Homo sapiens: one gene and its partners. The protein of the gene in region 6 purifies or fractionates together with the protein of the main gene of each other region. This does not show direct contact. Each region holds a gene or a part of one and is shown on either strand. Other genes may lie near its edges. The genes, in order: ZDBF2, DDI2, PIBF1, ZNF318, NEK1, CPNE2 and DNM1L.

Region 1 (4,020 bases), on a different chromosome or scaffold from region 6:
CCTTCTTATTTCATTCATTTATGTAACATTTAAAATTGCATAAACCTATCCCAGGCAGTGAACAGAGATTTCTGAGCTACCCAGATGACTTAGGCAGAAATGTCTTAAAATACAAATAAAACAGCATTTTGTTTTTGGTTTTTTTTTTTTTAAAGAAATATTTCTTGCACACCTGAGATCTGCACCAGCTGCAGAGGTAAACATGGATAAAAATATTTCTGAAATGAGTCTGGAGTTGTCGTGTGTGTATTTCTCAAACTGAGTGTGGCGTGGCAGTGTGGTAAGAACTAACAAAACCCACAATCCTCATAAAACATATTTTTCAACTGCCTGACAAAAGAGACATCAACTTAATTTGAAAAATAATAATAATAAGGAAAGACAATAGAAAGGCATTTGGTTTTCTGAATAAGACAATCTAAATTTTCCGTCCAGCAGTAGGGAAACAATTGAGGAGCAATGACAAAACAATGGCCGAATGCATAAAAAGACCACACTAATTCAGTGTCAGTTCCTCCACACAACACTACTAATTTTCAATTTTCCCCTTTTCTGGATTATCCACGCTATGCTGGCTTTCCTCTGGTGACAAGCATTATCCTAGACACCTCTATTCAGTCTTAATAAAATAATAATAGCTAATACTTAGTACTTAATCTGAGCCAGGCGCTCTGTCAACAGCTTCCTGTGCATTATCTCATCTAAATAACAAACAGCTTTATAAGGTAGCTGCCATGATTAATTCCCATTTAACAAATCAGGGAACTGAGGTTGAGAGAAAAGAGGTATCTTGTTGCAGGTCTCACACCAATAACCAGCGTAACTGAGATGTGATCACTGGTCAATTTGAGTAGTTTATGCTTTAACCTCTTAACGACTTAGACACTTCCTCTCTGTATTTTTAGGAATACTACTTGTTTTAATATTAGGTGAAAACAAATAATTAGGACTCTTATTTGCTGCAATCAACATCACCACTATTCCAAAGAAAAAATAAAACTAATGTCTAGTTTAATTGCATCTTGCTCATTTGAGTGCTGACAGTACCTTGGATTAGCGACTCTCAAGATTATTTAACATGACACACAGGAACCAATAAATTTTTAATTACAACCGAGCACACACGCACAGGCACATACGCACACTTAAAAGATTTTTCACAAAACAATACTCTCATTACATGTAATGCAGTCTGATATTTTCTATGCGATCTTACTTTTTTTAATGCTAGTCACGACCCACTAAATTTCACAATGCACACGCGCACAGTTAAAATATTTTTCACAAAACAATACTCTCATTACATATAATGCATTCTGATTTTTTTATGCGATCTTATTTTTTTTTAAATGCTAGTCATGACTAAATTAATTTCACCATTCACGAACCGGCTGAAAAAACTCAGTTTGAAAAAACACTGCCTCCAATTATTATGCAGAGTAAACCATATTTTATAGAAACCAGTTCTTACCCTGAATTCAGCTTATTTCTATCCAAATCACTGGCCACTGCAGTGATACTTTATCAACTCTCTAACGAGTTGCTTTCTTGCCTTCTAGGCTTTAGGTTCAAACGATAGAGAAAAGGTCTTCCACGTATTAAGTGAAAAAAGCAAATAAACACCCCTTATGTAACACACGTATATATGTTTGTGTATTAATTAAAAAGGAAGGAAAGATACCCCCCAAATTGTTAGCAGATTCTCTCGAGGATGAGATCGCTACAGGCTGCCTCCATCGTCCCTCCCCCTCCCCACACGTAGCATATTGCTGTAAAAAAGAAAAACAAAAACAAGCTATTTCCTTTAGGTGGGGGTGGGGTTTTGGTCCCTTGAGAACCAGTATCTTGTTATGCATTTTTTTCACGAGCTACCAAGAATCATCGCGTGAGATAATCGCAGGAGCTGGTAAGGCCCTTCTTAGGAGCAAGTAAAAACGATGGCGTAACACGACCACATTTACACAACTGTTGCACGGCGGTAGTAAAAGAATCATTAACACAAAAATCAAACGTTTTCAAATAAACTATAATCGCCCGAGGCTGGGAAAGGCCTAGGTCTGGGGCCAGCTGGACCCAACGCAGGGCACTGGGGGAAGGGGGTGTGTGGACAGGTGGCTCGGGATCTCGGCCCCACAGGTGCCCAGGGGCAAGACTCCGCGGGTTCCCGGCCCTCAATCCGACCCCGCAGACCGCCCCCTCCCCAAGCCCGGACCCGAGGCCTCGTCCGCCGGCCCCTCTGACCCAGGGCCCCGGACAGAAGCGCAATGCAGCCTGCGCCCCACCTCCTTCCCTCGCCCCGCCACCTCGATCCCGGCCCGGAGCCGCCGACACCTCTCACGCAGCAGGGGCAGAAAGGGACGCGGGGTGGGGGGAAGCCGAGGACCTGCGAGGCGGCCGCGGGAGCCCAGCGAGCGGTCCTGGCGTCCCTCGGGAAGAAGGCGCCCCGGGCGCCCGGCGAGCAGGCCCCGCCCGCGGGCGTCGCCCCGGCCGCGCCCCGCCCCCGCCGCGGCACTCACCTCCGCGGAGGCTGCCCGGATTCCTTCCGGGCCGCGGTGGAGACCGAGGACCGAGCCGGGCGCTCTCCCTTCTTATTCCGGTTCCGCGGCGGCGCCCGAATCCCAGACCGTCCGAGCGCCACGGCCCCGCTGCCCGCGGAGCCAGAAATAGGCGACTTCGGCCCCTGCGGTCCGGAGGCGAGAAGCGGCGCGGGAGCGCGTCTCTCAGGACGCGGGCCCCGAGTCGCGACTCCACTCACGCAGGCATCCAAGGCAACGTGGCGTTGCAACCCTGATGGAGGTTTGACGTCAGGGAAGGTGCGAAAACCAGACCCCTTCTGACGCAGGAGCGGCGGGACCGCCCCCTGCCCGCCCACCCACTCACTCACTCTCCCACCCGGGCGGAGGAGCCCCTTCCTCCCCTCCAGAAGCTCTTAAAGCGGACACTTCCTCCCTGGTCAGGGCCCCACTCCGGAGCTTGGGAAATCTATCGCGTTCCAACAAAAATGACTAGACTCATAAGCACAGTTGGGACGCGAAGTAGAGACCAAGGTTTTAGCGTTTGAGGGTCCAAATAAAAACTGCTTGCCAATTCAAAGCAACGTATGAATGTAGAAAAGAAAACGGGGCTAAGAGAGCTAGTCGTTTCCGTTTCCATGCCTATTTCATAGTGAGGTGCATCTCACAAAAGCTGCTGTTCAATGAGCGCTTGCTCTGTGCTAGGCACCGTTTAAGGTTTCTATACATTATTGCATTTCATTTCAGAGTAACTCTGAATGAATCCTATTATTGTCCCCCTTTGACAAATTGAGAAAACTGAGGCTTAAGGAAGTTAGGTATTCAAAGATCTATCCTGCACATTAAAGGGTTACAAATATTAACAAACAACATTAGGTCATGCAATTATATTCACTGCGCTACCCCATTACGAATATAGTTGTGAGCAAAAACAGTTTAAGTGTAACGGAGATCACAAACCTAAATGAATCACACTACTGAATATGAAATTATAATCTGCGATAAGAAGGTTCTGAAACACCTAAACCAATTTTACTAAAATGGAGAGAGGCCCTGTTGCAAAGCTTATGTCTAATGTAAAAATAATCTTAAAATGAGCTACTTTGCTCTTTGGCTGTAGCTGTAATTGTCGTTACCCTTTTTAGTAAGCTTGTGATTTTGTCCCTTTAAAGAACAACAACAAAAAAACTTGCCTATTGCTTTTGCGTCCATTGTTTTTATTCTTTCTGTATTTCTCAGCTCCTTCTTCCCCCACTACATCTTTCTCTCACTTTAAAGTTGGGCTCCTGCAACTGTTCGATTTATAACCTCCCTTAGATTTAACATACCAAAAAGTACGGATTTCTTTTAAGGCAAGTTTTTTCCACATCCCAACTTTGGAATTATAGAAAATCCACTATACATTGATCGAAGCACCATGACATTATGTATTTCACAGATGCTAAGCCATGTTTTTCCCCACATTTTAACATCTGTGAAATCAAGATGCATCTTATAAACTCTCGTT
Region 2 (3,500 bases), on a different chromosome or scaffold from region 6:
TTTAGAAACAAGTGTTTTGCCATGCTGCCCAGGCTGGTCTCAAATCCATAGGTTCAAGTGATCTCCCCACCTCAGCCTCCCAAAGTGTTGGGACCACAGGCATGAGCCACCATGCTTGGCCAGAAAGAAGTTGTTAACAAAATACTTTCACCTACTATGTCCAGAGTATTTATTCGGATGATATTAGGAAGTCGATGTTCTAAATAAAAAGGACCTGATATGTAGAATTATTTCATTACTTAAACATTACAAAAATTAGCACAAGCTATACTACCAGCAACAAAAGGTTATTTAGGTAAAAAGCCATTTCTTTTTAATTCTTTGAAGTTGGTACATCCCCTTCACTAAGCCTGGAAACATATGTGTATCTGTTTTAATCTTCCAAACTTTTACTAAAATAAGGTAATTACCAAAAAAGGATAACTGTTATTAGTAGGTTAGAAAACACTGCTATTATCAGCTAATGTTTCTTAAATAATGGCACCAAGACTGTGGAGGTTAAAAGGAAAAAAAAAAAAAAGACATTTCATAAAATGATAATATATCCTCATATTAACACACAGCATCACGACTAAGATGATAAATTACACCCCAAATGCAAAACCTTGTAAGGAGCTATGTCAAATTCATTCAAGCTTACCTTGCAGGTAAGATTAAAACTATTAAGTTAGTCTCTGTCTGGTTGTTCAAAATTCCTCCCTTCCTACAAAATACTTAAGTTACAACCAAAACTGTAGTTAATATAAAAACTTGAGCCAAAAAGTGATGGGAGTCAATTCTGTTGTTTTTTTTTTTTTTTTGGACACAGGATCTCACTCTGTCACCCAGGCTGGATTGCAGTGGCAGCGATGATGGCTCACAGCAGCCTTGACCTCCTGGGCTTAGGTGATCCTCCCATCTCAGCCTCTCAAACAGCTGAGACCATAGGCGCGCCACCATGGCTGGCTAATTTTTTTTTTAAATTTCTTGTAGAAACAAAGACTCACTATGTTGCCCAGGCTGGTTTCAAATTCCCAGGCTCAAGTGGTCGTCCTGCCTTGGCCTACCAAAGTACTGGGATCACAGGCATAAGCCACCACGCCCTGACTCAAACTGTACTTTATACATAAAACTAAGCCAAAAGGTGATGGAGTTGATTCTGAACAAAGTCAACCTGGAAAACTCCATCTGCCACCCACACCCATTCTAAAGCTCAATGACAGACATCTGAATGTTCTCCAGTAAAACAGTGGCAAAAGCTGCCTGGCTGTTTTTAAAACTCTTACCACTTTCGTCTTTAGGATAAAGCTATTCCCTGAACTTGTAACTCTTAATAATTTACTGTACTAGAAAAAGCAATGTGTGATACTAGTCATACTGATGAATAATGCCAGCACAAGACTGTAAAATAACCCAAACTCAAAAGTAAATTCTATTCAGCTTCTAGAAAATACATCCCAGAGTCACCGTTCTATAATAAATGGGGGATTTCAGCAAAACTGTTACCCCATTTTACCTAGAAAACTTAGCTCCATCATTACATTTAAACAAGCTAAATAACTGAGACTTAGAAAAAAGTATTAGGTAGCATGATTTCAATATATACAGTGCTAATATGGCCTGATGACAATACTGTAATCTCACACCATAACACTGCATTTTCAGTAACGTTCAATTATGCTGGTCAGGCATGGTGTCTCGTTCCTATAATCCTGTCATTTTGAGAGGCTGAGGCGGGTGGATTGCTTGAGCCCAGGAGTTCAAGACCAGCCTGGGCAACATGGCAAAACCTCATCTTTACAAAAAATACAGAAATTAGCTGGACATGGTAGCAGGCACCTGTAGTCATAGCTAGTCAGGAAGGGGAGATGGGAGGATCAGTCTGGGTGACAGAGTAAGACCTTGTCTCAAAAAAAAATTTTTTTTTTAATTAAGTAAATAAAAATTTATACTTCTTTTTGTTGGTTCTTCTGTCTTCGGTGAAGTTAGGGCTGCTCACACACAGTAGCAATGATACTTTTCAAAATAAACCAGGCCTAAGAGGCATGGTGGCTCATGCCTGTAATACTTTGGGAGGCGGAGGCGAGAGGATCTGCTTGAGCCTGTGAGACTGAGACTGAGGCTGCAGTGAGCCATGGCTGCGCCACTGCACTCCAGCATGGGCAGCAGAGCAAGACTCTGTCTATATAAATAAAATAAAATAAAATAAATAAAATAAAATAAAACAGTCCTAAGAAAAGGAAAGAAATAGGGAAATACTGTTGGACTCAAAAGTTAACATCTGCTTACTGTCAAAATTTTCTTTAGGAAAATCACAAAAACAAAAACATCCAAAAAAAACTTCCTAAAAAAATTTAGGAAGCTTCTAAAATGTGTCTAAGCAAAATAACCCCAATCTATCTTAAACACAGCAATGGACTGAGCTGTTCTTAATCTGTTGAAATACTAAAAAACAGAATGTTTCTCTTTTTTATGAGATAGTGTCTCACTCTGTTGCCCAGGCTAGAGTGCAGTGGTGCCATCTTGACTCACTGCAACCTCCGCCTCCCAAGTTCAAGCAATTCTCCTGCCTCAGCCTCCCAAGTAACTGGGGTTACGGGGGGTGTGCCACTGCACCCTGCTAATTTTTTTTTAATTTTTATTATTATTTTTTTTTGAGATGGAGTCTCGCTCTCTTACCCAGGCTGGAGTGCAGTGGTGCGATCTCAGCTCACTGCAAGCTCCGCCCCCTGGGTTTATGTCATTCTCCTGCCTCAGCCTCCTGAGTAGCTGGGAATACAGGCGCCTACCACTACGCCCGGCTAATTTTTTGTATATTTAGTAGAGACGGGGTTTCACCGTGTTAGCCAGGATGGTCTCCATCTCCTGACCTCGTGATCCACCTGCCTCAGCCTCCCAAAGTGCTGGGATTACAGGCGTGAGCCACCGCGCCTGGCCAATTTTTATATTTTTAGTAGAGATGGGGTTTCACCATGACCAGGCTGGTCTCAAACTCCTGACCTCAGGTGATCCGCCCCCCCCCCCCCCCCTCCGGAGCCTCCCAAAGTGCTGGGATTAACAGGCGTGAGCCACCACGCCGGGCCAGAATACAGACTTTTTCATTATTGTATTAAGAGATGGGGTTTGGATATGGTAGCTCACACCTGTAATCCCAGCACTTCGGGAGGCCAAGGCAGGAGGACTGCTTGAGCCCAGGAGTTGGAGATAGGCCTGGACAACACAGCAAGACCCTATCTCTGCTAAAAATAAAAAATTAGCCAGGTGTAGTCCCAGCTACTCAGGAGGCTGAGGTGAGAGGACTGCTTGAGCCCAGGAAGTCAAGGGTGCAGTGAACTACAATCATGTCACACTGCACACTGCACTCCAACCTGGGTGACAGAGTGAGACAATGTCTCCAAAAAAAAAAAAAAAAAAAAAAAAGGAAGATCAAAGAAGGAGGTTAAGAAGACAAATAATGAACACATCTACTACTGGACCATGAGACTAATTAAAAACTGGAAAGGTTCCTACCCCTTCTGAAG
Region 3 (3,500 bases), on a different chromosome or scaffold from region 6:
ACACAATTAACATCCATACACCTGTTTCCTTTTGTACATTTGTGAGAATTTACCCGGGGCATAAAAGGGCTTTTTTTTCTTCCCCAGTTTATCTTATATTTTATGACCGATGTTTTTAAACTCATTCATTCTGCTGAGTGAACTAAAAAGGGTCATAGTTTGAGTCCTTTCTTGTTTTACTATTCCATTTCTACCATAAAGATGCTTATCATGCTTTTTGATCAAGGTTATATTTTTCTTTCCTAGGTTTTTATTATAGTAAATGAAAACATATGTAAAAATAGAGGTGATATAATGAACACCCATGCTCCCATCACCCAAATTCAGTAATTATCAACTCATGACTCATCTTGTTTCAATGATCATCCGTGGCCCCGATGGATTATTCTGATGACTGTGCTTTTTAGTTTTCTCTTTTTATATTGTATCTGTCATTGCTATAGACTGATAGTGGCAGAGGGGACATGAAAATACCAACTGGTATCATCTTAGCATCATAATCTATTTCATTTTTATTCTTTTTTATTTTATATTTTTAAGAGATGAAGTTTCACTCTGCCACCAGGCTGGAGTGCAGTGGCATGATCATAGTTCACTGCAGCCTCGAATTCCTGGGCTTAAGCAGTCCTCCCACCTCAATCTCCCAAGTAGCTGGGACTAAAGGCATGTGCCACTATGCCCTCTACTTCATTTTTAAATGCTTCTTTTGAACTCCAGCTTTATTCCAGAGCCCACTGAGCACAGCTCTCATGGATTTAAAGCTCCAATAATTATCATATTTTGGCATAATGCCATATACATAAGAAATACCATGTGTCAGTCATAATGGGAGTAGAAATGACAATCTTCTATCCACAAATCTTTGCAAATTCACATACGGTATTATGCAATTTGTAATTTAAATTACACAATTTAAATCATTCATTCATTTAACAAATATTCACTGACTACTACATTTTAAGAATTATTTCAAGTGGAGTGAACAATTAAGATAAGGTCATTCCATTTATATTACATATGCAGTACATATATATTTAAAGGCTTTCATATTTATTTGATCTTAGTTTATATAGTGCAGTTATCCGTATTAGCAACATCTCATAAATGATGAAACTTAGGCTCAGAATGAAAAGAGATGTACTGAGGGACATACAGCTAAGTAGCAGCTCATTAAATTACTGAACAAACAACAGAAAAGAATATTCCAGTTAAAAAAAGGTATTTGCTATAAGTAGCAAATATTAGGAAACATATTTTCAGAAAGTGTCATTTTTTTTTTGAAAGAGTGTGTGTCTTTTGTCAGGAAGAAACAGCTGAAAAAAACTTCAGGGAAAACTGTTAAGTATTTAAATTGATTCCACTACATAAAAATAATCATCAAATAACACTGAAAAAATATTTACACACGTGTGATTTTACTGGGTTTCTATCTCTGTTTACATTTTAAGACAGCAGTGACATCTAAATAAAACAAAAACAACCAATATAAAAATACAATATAAACCCAACAAACTGCCAAAACTGCATGCATTTGTGCAAAGAAGAATAAGGTAAAAGTAAAATTAACAACTGATTGTTGGTAAAAACTCAGGTGACTTTGATGCACCCTAAAAATAGAGAACTACTACTGCAGCCATTTTAACTACTTACCTCTTGACTTTATCATAGTTCTCTTGACGGTAGTCACCTTGCTGAATTAACTGTTTTGTGTCTGCTAATTCTAAGGCCAAACGTTGACATCTAATTTGAACTTCAGAGTAGTTTTTTCGATCTTCCTCATATGTCTATAAACCAAAGGAATAATAACACATTTCAGACTAAACACTTAACATAGTTGCCCAAATTCTGTATTGAAGTCTTCTGTTAAGCTGTGATTGTCCTTGTAATTAAACAGTAAAAAAAATTCCTCAATTTTTAAATTTAGTAATTTTTCCCTATTCAAAGGCAAGTAATCTTAAGTTCACAGAGTGGTCTGTAAACTCAGTTGTTTAAAACTTAAACTGTTTTTCAAATAAATAACACAACAACTATGTTTTAGTTACTAGGCTAAAACATAAAATGACTACAAATGTTAAATGACTTTTTAAAAACATTTACTGAGTTACTATCAGATGCTGAAGATACAGAAGTGAATAAAACACACTTCCTGTTCTTGAGGATTTTACAGTTTAGAGATGAAAAGTCATATGGATATCAGTATCTACAATGAAAAATAATTAATGAAGAGATTAAACATGCAGTTCCAATTGTGTTACTCAGAAAAAAAGGAATCGTGTGACCCTCGAAACACATCTTTACATTGTTCTTCCCTCTACTCTCCCCATGTCAGTAGCATGTTAAGAAAGGCATTGCTGATATGGGAAGAGCAATGGAAGTAAAAACCTTAAAGTTGGTCACAAGGTTCTTTACAATCTGGTGCTGCTTCCTACAAGCCCCATTTCTCACCATTCCTAACATTCACACTTCACCCTCCAACCCTAATGGAGATCTGAAATTGTCTGAACCCACTAATGCTGCTTCTAACCTGTTCCCACTGCCTGAATACCTGCATATAATCTAAATGCTTGTCTCCTTCAGAGCACTGATCTCACTGTATCATTACCATCACATTAGTTTTCTCTTTATCTCACCAGAGTGTAAACATCTTAAGGGTGGGGATTTTGTCTTGCTCAACGCTGGACCTCCACCACTTTAAACACTGCCAGGTATATAATAAGAATTAAATAAAAGCTAAAAAAGAAATGATTAAATATGGGAAGCTGGGAGGGGAAGCAGACGGGACTAAATTCCTACTTATTTTCCTTCTTTGAACTCATCAAATCTTGCAACCAATCATCAACTCCACCTTCAGAAGCTGGCATGTTAAATGCATCCTGTGTTAAGTCATTACTGCTTAAGTAGCTGGCCAGCTAAATGAGGTCATGTTCACTCCACACATACTGACTGGATCATTTCTGTGTGACTGGTCACGGATTAGGCACTACAGATACAAAGATGAGTAAGACGATTTTGTCCTTTTTAAACTACTAAATGTAACTTTGATTATTTTAGTCCCCAAATTTCTATCAAAGGGCTATTTGAGAGAAGTAATTATGGAAAAACTACATTCAGTGTGTTTTGCTTTGGTATGGTATTATGTTCTTGTTCTACGCTGAAGTTTTCCATGAGAATGGAATGTTACTATGGTACTTATTATGGGATTACAGCTGAGGATACGCTATCACCTCCCGAAAGATCATCACATATATCATTTCGGACCTAAGTCCTACAAGAATCTTTAGTTCTTCTGAAGAATGCTTTATCCTTCTAAACATCATTAATCATGTCACTGTTTTGGAAGAGAGTATAGTGTTATGGCTAGGAAGGCAAGCTCCAGAATTCAACTGTCTAAAACTGAATTCCTGCAGTAAGACTCTGTGCACGTTAGTTTACCTCTCTATTCTGGTGTCCTACCTCAGAGTTCTTGTGAAGCATATATCAAGTAATACATGTAAAGTGCT
Region 4 (3,078 bases), on a different chromosome or scaffold from region 6:
GGGTAAAGGAGCTGTCTGAGGGGATAGTTGATGAGGGAGTAAGTACCAGCATTGGACCCCACAGCATAGATGATTCTAATTTGAACCATGGAAACAGATACATGTGGGAGGGAGAAGTAAAACAGCCCAACTTGCTAATGATTGACAAAGAGGCTGAACAGTCCAATAAATTGATGACAGGAAGTGAAACTCCAAGTAAAGTAGTGATCAAATTGAGTCCACAGGCTTGCTCTTTCACAAAGGCAAAATTAGACTCATTTTTATCAGAAGCTAGGTCTTTACTCAACCCACAAGATACACCTGTGAAAATTTCTGCCCCAGAGTTGCTGCTTCATTCCCCAGCCAGATCAGCTATGTGTTTAACAGGTAGTCCACAAGAGCAAGGAGTTTCAGTTGTTAGTGAGGAGGGGCTAGAGAATTCAGCTCCAGAATCAGCTTCTAGAACTTCTAGGTACAGAAGTCTCAAACTCAAGAGAGAAAGATCAAAAGACTTTCAAGTTAAAAAGATCTATGAGTTGGCTGTTTGGGATGAAAACAAGAAGAGGCCAGAGACCTGGGAGAGCCCAGAGAAACCAAAAACAGAAGCACTGGAGCTACAAGATGTCCATCCAGAGTTAACAGTGACAATAGAAAGCAAGGCCCTAGAAGACTTTGAAGCTACAGACTTAAAGGTAGAGGAGCTTACTGCCCTGGGGAATCTGGGGGATATGCCTGTTGATTTCTGCACTACTCGGGTAAGCCCAGCACATAGATCCCCAACTGTCTTGTGTCAGAAAGTGTGTGAAGAAAATTCTGTATCACCTATAGGGTGTAATTCCTCCGATCCCGCTGACTTCGAACCAATCCCATCTTTTTCTGGGTTTCCGTTAGATTCTCCCAAAACCTTGGTGCTTGACTTTGAGACAGAGGGTGAACGAAACTCACCTAATCCCAGGAGTGTTAGGATCCCTTCTCCTAACATTTTGAAAACTGGACTTACAGAAAATGTTGACCGTGGCTTGGGGGGCCTAGAGGGAACACACCAGGCCCTTGACCTGTTAGCAGGAGGAATGATGCCTGAGGAAGTAAAAGAATCTTCCCAATTAGACAAACAAGAGTCACTCGGATTGGAATTAAAAACAATTAATTCTGCAGGCCTTGGGCCATCTCCTTGCCTTCCAGACCTTGTTGACTTTGTCACACGGACCTCTGGAGTTCAAAAAGATAAACTGTGTTCTCCACTCTCTGAGCCAGGTGACCCTTCTAAATGTAGTTCCCTGGAGTTGGGGCCATTACAGCTAGAAATATCGAATGCATCCACCACAGAGGTGGCAATTCTGCAAGTAGATGATGACAGTGGCGACCCTCTGAATTTGGTTAAAGCTCCAGTGTCAAGGTCCCCTCCAAGGGAGCAGGTAATTGAAGACAATATGGTCCCTCAGGGAATGCCTGAACAGGAAACTACAGTTGGTGCCATCCAGGACCACACAGAATCCAGTGTTCACAACTAAGAATAAATACCTAGAGCTACTTGTGAGTGAATCATTGGCTTCTAGAAATCAGATGCCCAGATGATCCAAGACTAGTTTGTTATCTCATCTGGAACCTACACCAAGAGATGCAGTCAGCATCTTAAAGTAAATGTTCATGGAAGCTAAAAAATTTACCTCCTTTCCTTTTCCCTTTCCCCTTAAAACACCAGACAAATCGATAACAACTTATATATATATATATATATCTGTAAAAATGTATTTTGTTAATTTTTTTGGCCAATTTATTTTCTCCCACTTTGTCATTAAAATCACATGTCTAACTGGCTCACCACATAGTGTGCTTTGATTGTATTTTGGCTTTGACTCTGCCATTTCTGAAATGTGGGGGAGGATGGAGGCAGCTGACCTCTCCAGTTGCTGTGTTGTATTCCTACCCAATTTCCTGGGCAGTTGATGCATCTCTGGGAAAAACACCAGAAAGCTTGCTGAAATGGAAAACTTGGAAGAATTGTTCATCTCTTAGGCTTCCATTTGGATGGGCCTGCCTTAACATTGTTTGAAATGCAGCGTGAGTAGCTCTTTTGTTTACTGTTTACACCCCTTATTGGCATGTCAACTCCTGTACTTCCCTTACTCTGTTGCCTTTCTTGAGATGCATTGTCCTGCTAACCCACAAACCTGTTTGGAAATAAACATGGAAGAATATCTGGCAGGCTTACTTTTAGAAGACGACAAATCGGTAAGGCTTATTCATGGTTCATTGCCAGGAGCAGATATGCTTTTGAGATCACTTTTATTTTTGAAATGGCCTTTGTTCATTGTATTGTGATCCAATAACACTTTGTATTAAATTGTTTAGCAGCCATTTGTGTTGTGAAGGGGTAGAAGATCTCTGAAACTTGTCTTGAGATTGAACTCATTCCCTGTTCCACAAACCCATATGTATCCTTTCCTCTACCTCCTCCTTTCCCAATTAATTTCAACCATAGTACGATGTTTGGGGTTGTATATTTTGTTAAAAAGATTAAAGAATTTATGAGTTGGCTTGGACAAGTTTAACTTTATTTTTAATGTGTTAATTACTTGGAATAAATGCATTAATCTCATGTTTCCTTCTGGATTTTTGTTTTGAAATCACACACATTTGAACTCCAAAGGAAAACTAGAACAGTGAATCCCTGCTGCCCTATTGTCTATCCGCACCCGCAACCATGCTTTCCTCACTTGTCAGAACTACTTCATGCCAGAATGTTAGGATATATAGTCTGCCCCAGCGCAGCCTGGGTGGGTAGTGAGTAGGCAACAGTTGTCTGGTATTGGTATCTTCCTGTTGTGAAGCTTTTTATATACCTTTGTGTTGACTCTCCGTAGGATTTTCTGGGAACTGAGCTCCCCTAGGACAATCAGGTTCTTGCTCTTGGGAATTAGGGAGCTCAGTCCTCAGATTTTCTCTGTCCCAGTTTCCTCTTGTATCCCTGTTGTCAGCAGTTTATAACCTGACTCAACAGGGCCTTCGGAGTCTTATTTACCCACCTGTTCCTCAAAGATAATACAAAATTGCTGATCTGGATTAACCTCCCCGCTCCCCCAATTTTTTTTTTCCTGT
Region 5 (4,014 bases), on a different chromosome or scaffold from region 6:
CAATAAATATTAAAACAATAATATCTGATAGAAATAGTAAGAATACTGGCTAAATCAATTTCTCCAATTAAAATCCTTCAACAATTCCCCATCTCCAAACTCCTCACTTTTGACATTCAAAGTTTTCTTATGGCATCATGCTTCTTTTCAAGTATATGAACTATGCTCCAGAAAAAAGTACCTCAGCCTCTAGTCAAATAAGACAGCTTTCCTCACATTTTACTAAGAATTTCTTTTTTTTTTTTTTTTTCTGAGACAGAGTCTTGCTCTGTTGCCTAGGCTGGAATGCAATGGTGCCATTTCGGCCTCCGAGGTTCAAGTGATTCCCCTGCCTCAGCCTCCCAAGTAGCTGGGATTACAGGAGTGTGACACCATACCCAGCTAATTTTTGTATTTTTAGTAGAGACGGGGTTTCGCCATACTGGCCAGGCTGGTCTCGAACTCCTGACCTCAAATGATCCACTTGCCTCGGCTTCCCAAAATGCTGGGAATACAGGTGTGAGCCACAGCGTCTGACCCAGAATTTCTTTCTTTTTTTCTTTTTTCTTTGAGACAAGCCTCACTCAGTCGCCCAGGCTACAGTGCAGTGGCAGTATCTCGGCTCACTGCAACCTCTGCCTCCCGGGTTCAAGCAATTATCCTGTGTTAGCCTTCCAAGTAGCTGGGATTACAGGCACGCACCACCACGCCCGTCTAATTTTTTGTATTTTTGGTAGATATGGGTTCGCCAGGTCAGCCAGGCTTGTCTCAACCTCCTGACCTCAAGTGATCCACCCACCGTGGCCTCCCAAACTGCTGGGATTACAGGTAAGAGCCACAGCACCCAGCCACTAAGAATTTCTTTAAAGCCACAAATAAGCAATTTTGGACATAATAAAATTTTGTGAGCCACATATAAACAATTTTAGAGTATATGAATGGAAAAGCTCAACTTCGATCAATCTGGAACACATACTTAGGTTAAGCATTAAGCTCTCATCAGGTGTTTCAGATATTCTATAGACAGGCTGTCTTGAAGGGAAACATGGTAAAGGCATGGCAACAGGTTTCAAGAAGTCTTTTGGCGCTGTATGCAGCTACAATCCATACATACAGTTCTGCCTAAGCAATAAATACCATCTTGAATAGTGGGAGGGGATCCATTTATCTTCTCAGGAAAAAAGTTCTTTATCTTCCTTTATTCGAAAAAGCAGAAAGCAAAAATGGAATTTCTATTAGACTTTTTTCAAAATATTTTTTCTTCTCTGTAAGTCTATTCAGACAATATTCAACAGATTTTGTAGTAGAAACTACCAACAGGTAAATAAAGAATGTACATTCGTGAAAAGGTGTCATGTTCATGACTTAGACTAGAAGGCAGGAGATTAGACAGGGCAAAATTTACTTGGAATACAATGTCAATGTACTATTCACACGACCTCAAAAGAACTTCTGTGGTCAAGTCCGACGACCTTTATTAAATTCCTGACAGTGACTTTTAACGTGAAAAAAACCTGTTTTCCCACAAAATAGGCTCCTTACATTTCACCTAGAACAATGGATATTTTAAGTGAAACAGATCTGTAGAACCTCTAAAACCAGACAAATGTAAACTAGAAACAAGGAGTTACTTCTCTCCAAATTTGGCTCCCCTCCATCAGCTCTACAATACTGCTGCATCATAAAAAAAGGTCATTAACTTAGATTGGATGCCACTTTTAATCCTTCATAAACATTTCTAATGAAACATACCAAGGCAATAAAAAATATTTCTGCTTCCTAAAGCAGATCTTAAAGAACAAAAAATAGGCCTGCAAAAAAAGTTATGATAAACTCTTAAAGTAGTACAACAATTAATGCCTTACATATGGAAACTGTGTCAAATCATGGAAACAGAAATCTAAGATTACAGGGTAACCAGCTAACTACTACTCATATTCGCTTCCTAATTAAAATTTATCAGTAATTTAAGATTGGACACAACATAAGCAATGCAAATGCTTGCTTATCCATACTAAGATTCCTATTATTTTAATCCCATTACCGCTCTAGTTTTTAAAAATACCGTAATGTCCAAGAATCGCTTTGTTAATACAGAGTGTCTTAGAGAATTAACATTTAAATGAGATTAAGGTATTTTCCCTGCAAACACTTAAGGTATCTGTGTAATCTCAATATAAGCAGTTCTACGCACATCTCATTTCCAGGATGATTTTTACCATTTTGCATGTCATTCCTTCCCCCAAGTGGAACTCACCTCAGTGACACAGGACGTTAGTAGGAATAACGGTGATGACTAATAAGCATCAGTCTAGGTGTGGCAGTCTTCCTACGGGGCTTAATAAAGCAGAGGTACCATCCCGCATTTTGAAAATGACATCCTGAAAGAGAAACCAAGACTGTCTAACCAGCAGCAGCTCACAGTCCAGACTGAAAGGGGGCACTGAGACTCTCCACACCTGACACTCGTCTTCAGTTGATACCACGGGTTTGACTCCGTCCTGTCTCGGGCGACGCCCGTAAGACAGGTCGACACTACCCCGACGAAACAAACAAACTGGTTTCTGAGCCCCGTAGAAACGGCGGGGTGCAGCAGGGGGAGTGCCTCCGTTACCGCCTCTCCAACTTCACAGAGGTCGTTGCTAGTGGCCACGGCGGGGTGGGGACGGGCGGCGTTCGGGACTGGGAAGCTACTTGACTGCCACGTGCTCCTGCCTCGCAACAGCGGCTCTAGATTCCGAGTTATGGGGACAACTGCTCGAGAGGCCAGGGTAGGGTAAGGACTCCGCAACCTAGGGTCCCAAAACCCTGGAGCGAATGCGGACTAAGGGAGAGCGGCCGGCGCGTCACCGGCGCTGGCGTGTGACGTCAGCGCGTGGAAGGCGGCACGCAGCGGAGGCGGCTGGGAAGGAGCAGTGAGGCTGGGCTAGAACCGTAGGGTCGGGCGGGGTGCTGTGCGAAGGGGCGGGCGGGGTGCTGTGCGAAGGGACGGGAGGGGCGGGCTCTGCAGGCGGGAAGACAGAAAGGACGAGACGGGAGAGATGAAAAGGATGGAGAGAGTGTAAAGCTGTTAAGAGTCATGCAGAGATGCGGGAGAGAACTCACTAGTTGAAACCAATTTGGAATATAAAGCATATAAAATTTTCCCACAGCTACTACACCGAGAAAGGGACTTTTTTATTTTACATGAAAGCGCACTACTTAGGGATGCCACATTTTAAAGAGCAATTTTGCTTTAAAAAGCAAGTCTTTTCCTATTATATCTTGGATGGTTGAAACAGAAGAATGTTTAAGTCTTGAGATATTTTTAAAAAGCTGTATGGGGTTTTCTACACCTTTACATCTAATGTATGTATAAATTACTTGTCTGTATGTTGAAGGGTTTGGAAATGTACAGCAGTCTAAGTACATTTTTTCACTGCAGGACTGGCGAAGGTAGGAAGAGATTCCCCTAAAACTATAATAAGGGATATCATCTGGCGTCATCCTGAGTGGCCCTACTCAGGGCAACTTTATTCCTAGGGACATTGAAAGATTTTGGCGGCTTTGCCAGACGATGGCGCTGCAAGTCACCCAACCTGAAAAGCTGGAGAGTTTGTTTTATCTCCTCTTCAATCGCCATACAGCTACAAAAGACTTATTTTCCTCATTCTTTCTACTTCTAGTCTACACTCCTGTGGGCCCTCCTACCCCCAGTTAGTAGGAATTATCATGTCTGAATGCACAATTGTAGTTCTACCCACATCCTTTTGTACATCAAAGTGAAGTGAAATGTTGCCAATTACTAATCTAAGCAAATTCTTTTTGCTGCTTACAGGAAGAATGGCTAGTCAGCTAACCTCCTTAGATAATTCTTTAGGCTCATGTCATAAACTATTGGTAGGACTACAAACTGCTACAGTCTTTCTAGAAGGTATGCTAGCAGTATGCATATCCTTTGACTCAGCAATTTAACTTCTGGAACAAGTGAGCAATGATTTATATACAAGGATAACCGTTATTGTTTATAACCAGAAAAACTAGAAATACTGTAAA
Region 6 (3,500 bases):
TTGTGAAGGCATTCATTCATTCATTCATTCAGAGATGGGGTTTCACTCTCTTGCCCAGGCTGGAGGGCAGTAGCATGATCATAACCCACTGCAGCCTCAAACTCCTGGCCTTAAGGGATCCTCCTGCCTTAGCCTTCCAAGGAGTAGTGCTACAGGTGCAAGCCATGCACCTGGCCTGGGAAGGCATTTAGATGGGCCAGTTAGGAACCAAGAGGTTGGGGGAGGTTGTTTGGGAGGTGGTGATCCGTGGGGGCAGGAACAGAGTAAGAGCCTGAGGTATGTTCAGGATATGCTAAGAATTCAGTTTGCTTTGAACGCAGGGCATTTAAGTGAAGGAGATTAAAAAAACACCAAGGCAGGAGAGCCAGGCAGGGTCTGAGGGGTCCTTCACAGCCTTGAACCGAAGGGTTGGTCAGGCAGTGGGGAGCCATGTGAGGTTCCAGGACAGGGGAGTAACACACGGGAACACACAAAGGCATGGCTTCTCCCTCCAGCCTGGCCGGCTTCCCAGGCATCGCGTGGGCTCAGAAGCCAGCCAGACAACCAGGGGACGATCTCGCTAGCTCAGCTGCCCCAGGGAACTTCCTCTCTGGGTCTCAGGGGTGGCCCTGGCTTCTGGGAGTCTTTGAAGACCAAGGAGCTCATCCGGGCGAAGGGCCTGTGCATCTCCAGCGGAATTACTGCGCATCGCGGGAGTCGTTGCGCATTGCAGGAATCATTGCGCGTCGCAGCCACAAGCAGGGCACTGATGGGCAGGGCACTTCTGAACGACCCCCAGGGGAGGGCAGGCAGGGGCCAGTGCAGGGAGGGGGCTGCTGGCAGGGCTCTGGAGGCCTCCCCAGCTTGTCAGCCCCCACTGCATCATTTGTGGAGCCAGCAGCCGGTTGCTAAGAGACCTGTTGCTAAGTTGTAAGTTGGGCCTTTTTACTCCAAACAAAGCTGGTGATTATCTGCCAGGGAAGCGGCCCATTGATGGGGGAGGGTGTGGGGTGGGGATGGAGGGGGTGCGGAGAGCCGGGAGGGGACTGGTACCGTAATCAAGCCCTTCCCCGCAGGCTTGTCATTCAGCAGCAGCAGAGGCCTAGTGATCTTCTTGCTGGAGACGATCTAGGGGAGAGAGGAGAAAGGGCGCTCAGTGAGGAAGCGGGGGAAGCCCGGGAAGGAAAAATCCTCCACCGGCACCGGAAAAATCCTCTTGGCAGGGCTGCACCCCGCCCTGGCTGGCTGGTGACCCGCCTGAGCATCATCATCACCCTGGGAGGTGGACAGCAGCCAATCTGGGCAGTGAGGAGCCTGAGGCCCAGAGAGGGTAAGAGACCCGCCTGAGGTCTCCCGCTGCAGTTGGACTCCCACTGCCTGGTTTGCCCCTAGGAAAAGGCATTTTGGAGACAACTGTGGGAGGTTAGCCCCCTAACTCCCTCCTCCAGAGGCATTCCACAGACCCCACCTGCCTCAGGATATGATCTCTGATGGACAGAGTCAAGCTCAGATTCTATGTATTTTCCTTTTGAGACAGGTCTCGATCACGGCTCACTGCAGCCTCAACCTCCTGGGCTCAAGCGATCCTCCCACCTCAGCCTCCTGGGTAGCTGGGACTACAGGCATGCATCACCACGCCTGGCTTTTTTTTTTTTTTTTTTTTTTTTTTGGTAGAGACAAGGGCTCATTATGTTGCTCAGGCTGGTCTCGAACTCCAGGCTCAAGCGATCTTCCCGCCTTGGCCTCCCAAAGTGCTGGGATTACAGGCATGAGCTATAGAGCCCGGCCAATTCTTTCTATTTTTATTGGTTTCAATAGGTAATACACTTACACAGGGTGCAATAATCAAAACAACATAGAGAGGAAAAGTGGGCCACATTGCAAAGTCACCCTCCCACCTGTGTCTGCCCACTGCACTCAGGGGCCAGCATGGTTCGTGCTTCCTGGGTGCAGTGCGAGCGTCGTCCTGTGCAGCGGGGAGCACACATCAGTATGATCTAGTCCTGCTCCTGTGGGGCTAGTTCTTCTCCGCAGATCCACACACCTGCTCTGTGCCCTGGGGACTGTGCCACCTGGCTCTTTTGCCCTCTGGCTTTCAGAGGTTCAGCCAGTTGGGGGGATGGGCAGGAGACGGGAGAGCAGGTGGCGTGAGAGGTGGGGGCCCCCGTTTGATGGGAGCTTCTCCATTACTCTGTCTTCTGCCTCAGTTGCAGTCCAGAGGCCTCCCTCTATGGGCCACAGGTCTTACCAGGCCCTGGCAATGCCACTTCCTCACCCTGCCTTCCTTCCAGGTGAAGGTGGTCAGCTTTCCTCTGGGGCCAAGCCCTGGACTGGTTTCCCCATCCCTTGTCAGTTCCCTGCCCTGTCCACAAGCCCTTAAGCTCTCTTCTCAGTTATACCACAGGGTAGGGACCCTGACTACTGTACCCTGCTTCTTACGCAAAAAGTAGACATCACAACCATGGCAGTCCCTTGCTTTCTGCATGGTCACCATCTCCTGGAAGGCCCCGGGCATTTCAGTCTCCACTAGGACCCCTCAAAGCATTTTCCATTTCATTCCCTTATCAACCATGTAGGCTGGGCAGAGCAGTCATCATAATCCCCAAGGAAAATGTGGGGAAACTGAGGCCCAGAGGGGGATGGGAGCTTATCCAAGGGCATACAGCCATAAGGAATGATTGAGACTTGTGTCAGGGGCGCCTAGCCCCGCTTGCTCCCGGCCTCCAGGAGCTTACCAAGGACTGAGATGGATGGGGAAGTGTGGCCCAGAGAGGGAAAGGAAGTTTCTCAAGGTCACACAGTGAGTCTGCCACAAAGCGGGACTACTGTGGGTGTCTTGGTTGCTGGTCAGATGCTCCTACCCCCAGAGGTCAAGACCACACCTGATTATATCTAACAATCGGAATCCCTGGCCACCTGGGGCCCCAGATCCTGAGAGGCATTCTGTTTGGCTGCCTCTCCAGATGGGAGCTCTTCAGCCCGGCCTTGAACCCGCCAAGACTGTTCCCCACTCTGCATCTGCACTTTGGGACCCACCCAGGAAGATGGGGCTAGGGAAAGACAGCACGAGAAGAGACTTTTTGAGGGGTTGCCCGGTCTTTGGGCCCCTGCTCCCACCCAGGAGGGCCCAGCTCACCGTGCCCAGGCTGCAGGAGAACTGGCCCAGGAAGTCATGCTCGTCCAGCCGCATACTGGACTTGTCCTGGTCAAAGAGCGCGAACTTGAGCTTCTGTACCTCCTCGAAGTGGTAGTCAAGCACGAACTTCTTGGAGAAGGCGGGGTTGAGGTTGTTGATCGCGGTTTCTGTCCTGTCGTACTAGCAGAGGGGCAGGAAAATGGAAGTCAGAGTCAAGGCAGCTGGTCCAAGACCTCGCAGGCTGCTGGAAATCATTCTGCTAACTTGTACAATGCCTACTCTGTGCCAGGCTCTTGTGGTCATCGTCAGTGACTCACTATCCCCAGCTCACAGACAAGGACACTGAAGCACAGAGAGGTTAAGTGACTTCCCCAGGGCTGGACAG
Region 7 (3,500 bases), on a different chromosome or scaffold from region 6:
TGTTTTTGTTTTTTTTCCCCTTACAAATTCAAAGGACTAGAATAATGATAGTCATCTGGAAAAAGTAAATCATGAATGGCTATAATTTTGAAACTGATGCTTAATGATGGCAGTGATTTTTAAGTGTGGTAACAAACGTTTTGGGAGCATGTATCCTCTGTCAAGATGGTACTAGTAACAGATTCAAAGTAGTACCATATCGTATCAGACTGATGTGGGGGTTTTTATGTTTGACATCAGTTGGTGAGCCTGTTGTTCCTTAGTAAATTGATGCCATAAGCTAAAGTTAACATATTCATATTTTCCCTGCCAATAGTCCTTCATAAATACCTGGTCATAAACTGAAAAAAAAGTAATATCTGCAATATAAATGTGTTGTCTATTAGAGACGGGGCTAGATGTCTTAAGGATTTCTAAGTACATCTTAAAATTTATAATATAGTCGTTCATACCAAGAATCATCTGGGGAATTTTAACAAAATATGTATATGTTCTAAACCTCATCACTACCCCATAAATGCAGCTTAGGTCTGTAAGTCTGAAGGAGTATGTGTATCTATCTGGGTGTTGTTTTATTTTTTTTTTTTGAGACGGAGTTTCGCTCTTGTTGCCAAGGCTGGAGTGCAATGGCACGATCTTAGCTCACCACAACCTCCACCTCCCAGGGTCAAGCAATTCTCCTGCCTCACCCTCCCGAGTAGCTGGGATTACAGGCATGCGCCACCACGCCCGGCCAATTTTGTATTTTTAGTAGAGACGGGGTTTCTCCATGTTGGTCAAGCTGGTCTCCAACTCCCAACCTCAGGTGATCCACCTGCCTCGGCCTCCCAAAGTGCTGGGATTACAGGCGTGTGCCACCACGCCCAGCCTTGGGTGTTTTTCTTTCAGCTCCTCCAGTACTTTCATACTATTCTAATAAATATATTTTGTTGGTATGAAGCTATGAAGCAAAAGTAGCTATTACCAATGCATACATACAGTACACTGGTTTTAAGTTCCACCTCAAAGTGAATCTTAGAGCCTGGTGTAAGTGCTCCACTTTAGAGATGTACCTTAATTACTACTGTATTTGCAAATTAAGGGAAATTTAGGTCATCATTTGATTTTCTGAAATCTAAAAGGAACTGACCATCATTACCAAGTCTTTCTAGATAATCAAGGGTAGATGGCTGTTTTTAATGTAGGAATTAATGTAGGCATTCCTGCTTTCAGGTTTAAGTATGAATCAAAGCATATTTTAATTTGCTAGTGCAAATGGACCCAGAATTGGAAGGGCTATGTAACTACACAGTATGCACACCACAGCCATGTCAGTGTCACAGATCCTCTTGTGCATTCAGCTTTCTTAAAAACACATCAAAGGCTGCAAAGAAGCTCAGAAAAAACTAAATTGAAGGACAGGTGGAATACAATGACTCTATGTGAGGAACTTGCCAACTCACATCTTTCAAAGCCAGATCAGCTTATATAGTACATGCATTATAGTCATATGAAATGTTGTCTTGGTGCTTTCTTCTTGGAGGACTATGGCAGCAGCTTTAAGACTACTAACAAAGATTATTACACAGGTCATCTTATCCACAGGCAAACTGCTTTGCACAACTAGAACATTAACAGTTGTTTTTAAGTTAAGTTCAGATGAAACTGTCACAAGACAGACTTGATGTATTTTATATATACTGGGAAACTTTAGAAACAGCCATTTATTATTTGGATTAAATGTGTGATGTGTTCTGCAATTTGGAATACACTTTTCAGTTTATAGCCAGTCTCCACATGAGCAGATTCATACCATTGCAATACACAGGAGTTCATAAATAAGATTCTACTCAGGTAGGCAGTAACTAGCAAGTTTTGAGTCAACAAAGTCTCAGTATTACATAGTTCTCTTCACCAAAGATGAGTCTCCCGGATTTCAGCAATAATTTGACTGGCTCCTTGTAATGCCTGCATTAAAGGAAAAAAAATTTTAAATGCTTATTATAAAGTTATGAAATTAATCTGAATTACGCAGGGTAATTTTTCCAATATATATGTGGTAGGTTTATAACTAACCAGTTTATACTAACCAATATCTTCTCTGGAATTAGAATCTAATCAAGTACCGGCCAGGCGCAGTGGCTCATGCCTGTAATCCCAGCACTTTGGGAGGTCGAGGCGGGCGGATCATGAGGTCAGGAGTTAGAGACTATCCTGGCTAACATGGTGAAACCCCGTCTCTACTAAAAATACAAAAAATTAGCTGGGTGTGGTGGTGGGCGCCTGTAGTCCCAGCTACTCGGGAGGCTGAGGCAGGAGAATGGCGTGAACCTGGGAGGCGGCGCTTGCAGTGAGCCGAGATTGTGCCACTGCACTCCAGCCTGGGCGACAGAGCCAGACTCCCACTCAAAAAAAAAAAAAAAAAAAAAAAAAGATTCTTATCAAGTACCAACAGGAAACAAGCCTAGCTAGAATATAAAGACTATACATATCCAAGAATCAAACTGCATTTAAAACTATTTCTATGTTTCTATCTACTACCCAAGTATAAAAAATCAAAAGGTCCACAATACCTTTAGCATATCAGCTGCTTCTTTCCTGCGCTGTGCCATGTCCTCAGATTCTGTCAGAAGATCATCCAATAAGGATGATTTATACAGCTGGCCTACTAGCTCACTCTGAAGAGTGTCTTTCACATGATTAACCAAAAAATGCATTACTGCCTTTGGCACACTGCAAAACACAACCAAATTATGGAATTTTAGCCAAAATTCTACTTTTAACAATTTGGGCTTAGATGCTAACCTCATGAAATAAAGTTAAGTAAGAACACTACTACTTTGGATATTTCATTAATGGCATAATCGCCCTTTAGATTTTTGCTTAACTGTAATTAAACATTAAGAAAAGCAGTTCTCGGCCAGGCGCAGTGGCTCATGCCTGTAATCCCAGCACTCTGGGAGGCTGACGCGGGTGGACTGCTTGAGGCCAGGAGTTTGACAGCAGCCTGGCCAACATGGTGAAACACCGTCTGCACTAAAAATAAAAAATTAGCTGAGTGTGGTGGCACATGCCTGTGATCCCAGCTACTCGGGAGGCTGAGATACGAGAATCACTTGAACCCAGGAGGTGGAGATTGCAGTGAGCCAAGAACGCGCCACTGCACTCCAGCCTGGGCAACAGAGTGAGACTGTGTCTCAAAAAAAAAAACAAAAGCAACAATTCTTGATACTTTACCTTCTTTTCATCATCTTTATTTCAAAACTCTTCAATAAGCATTTATTCATAATAGCCAAGAAGTGAGAAAAATCCAAACATCAGCTGATGAATGCTTAAACACAGTATATCTACATAATCTAGTATTATTCACACAAAAGATATGTCACTTAATGACACGGATATGCTTTGAGAAATGCATTATTAGGTGATTTCATTACATGCACAGCACAGAGTGTACTTACACAAACGTAGATGGTATAGCCTATGACACGCCTAAGCTATATGGGATAGCCTATTGCTCC

The links.
Region 1: the proteins of CPNE2 (region 6) and ZDBF2 purify together in Homo sapiens (affinity purification with mass spectrometry; 2 studies listed by BioGRID and IntAct, with this or other methods). This does not show direct contact.
Region 2: the proteins of CPNE2 (region 6) and DDI2 purify together in Homo sapiens (co-immunoprecipitation; 3 studies listed by BioGRID and IntAct, with this or other methods). This does not show direct contact.
Region 3: the proteins of CPNE2 (region 6) and PIBF1 purify together in Homo sapiens (affinity purification with mass spectrometry; 2 studies listed by BioGRID and IntAct, with this or other methods). This does not show direct contact.
Region 4: the proteins of CPNE2 (region 6) and ZNF318 purify together in Homo sapiens (affinity purification with mass spectrometry; 2 studies listed by BioGRID and IntAct, with this or other methods). This does not show direct contact.
Region 5: the proteins of CPNE2 (region 6) and NEK1 purify together in Homo sapiens (affinity purification with mass spectrometry; 2 studies listed by BioGRID and IntAct, with this or other methods). This does not show direct contact.
Region 7: the proteins of CPNE2 (region 6) and DNM1L purify together in Homo sapiens (co-immunoprecipitation; 3 studies listed by BioGRID and IntAct, with this or other methods). This does not show direct contact.

Annotation. Positions count from the first base shown.
Region 1 is NC_000002.12:206,273,443-206,277,462, reverse strand, and holds the start of ZDBF2 (DBF4-type zinc finger-containing protein 2), read right to left. Parts: upstream 2,801-4,020; 5' UTR 2,517-2,800; intron 2,454-2,516; exon of another isoform or gene 2,283-2,453; intron 1-2,282.
Region 2 is NC_000001.11:15,651,958-15,655,457, reverse strand, and holds part of DDI2 (protein DDI1 homolog 2), read right to left. Parts: intron 1-3,500. UniProt on the Homo sapiens protein: Aspartic protease that mediates the cleavage of NFE2L1/NRF1 at 'Leu-104', thereby promoting release of NFE2L1/NRF1 from the endoplasmic reticulum membrane.
Region 3 is NC_000013.11:72,820,133-72,823,632, reverse strand, and holds part of PIBF1 (progesterone-induced-blocking factor 1), read right to left. Parts: intron 1,785-3,500; coding exon 1,651-1,784; intron 1-1,650.
Region 4 is NC_000006.12:43,335,570-43,338,647, reverse strand, and holds the end of ZNF318 (zinc finger protein 318), read left to right. Parts: coding exon 1-1,490; 3' UTR 1,491-2,578; downstream 2,579-3,078.
Region 5 is NC_000004.12:169,609,784-169,613,797, forward strand, and holds the start of NEK1 (serine/threonine-protein kinase Nek1), read right to left. Parts: upstream 2,801-4,014; 5' UTR 2,439-2,800; exon of another isoform or gene 2,361-2,438; 5' UTR 2,237-2,360; intron 1-2,236. UniProt on the Homo sapiens protein: Phosphorylates serines and threonines, but also appears to possess tyrosine kinase activity. Involved in DNA damage checkpoint control and for proper DNA damage repair.
Region 6 is NC_000016.10:57,113,083-57,116,582, reverse strand, and holds part of CPNE2 (copine-2), read right to left. Parts: intron 3,296-3,500; coding exon 3,116-3,295; intron 1,108-3,115; coding exon 1,033-1,107; intron 1-1,032.
Region 7 is NC_000012.12:32,741,801-32,745,300, reverse strand, and holds part of DNM1L (dynamin-1-like protein), read right to left. Parts: intron 2,713-3,500; coding exon 2,553-2,712; intron 1,948-2,552; coding exon 1,891-1,947; 3' UTR 1-1,890. UniProt on the Homo sapiens protein: Functions in mitochondrial and peroxisomal division.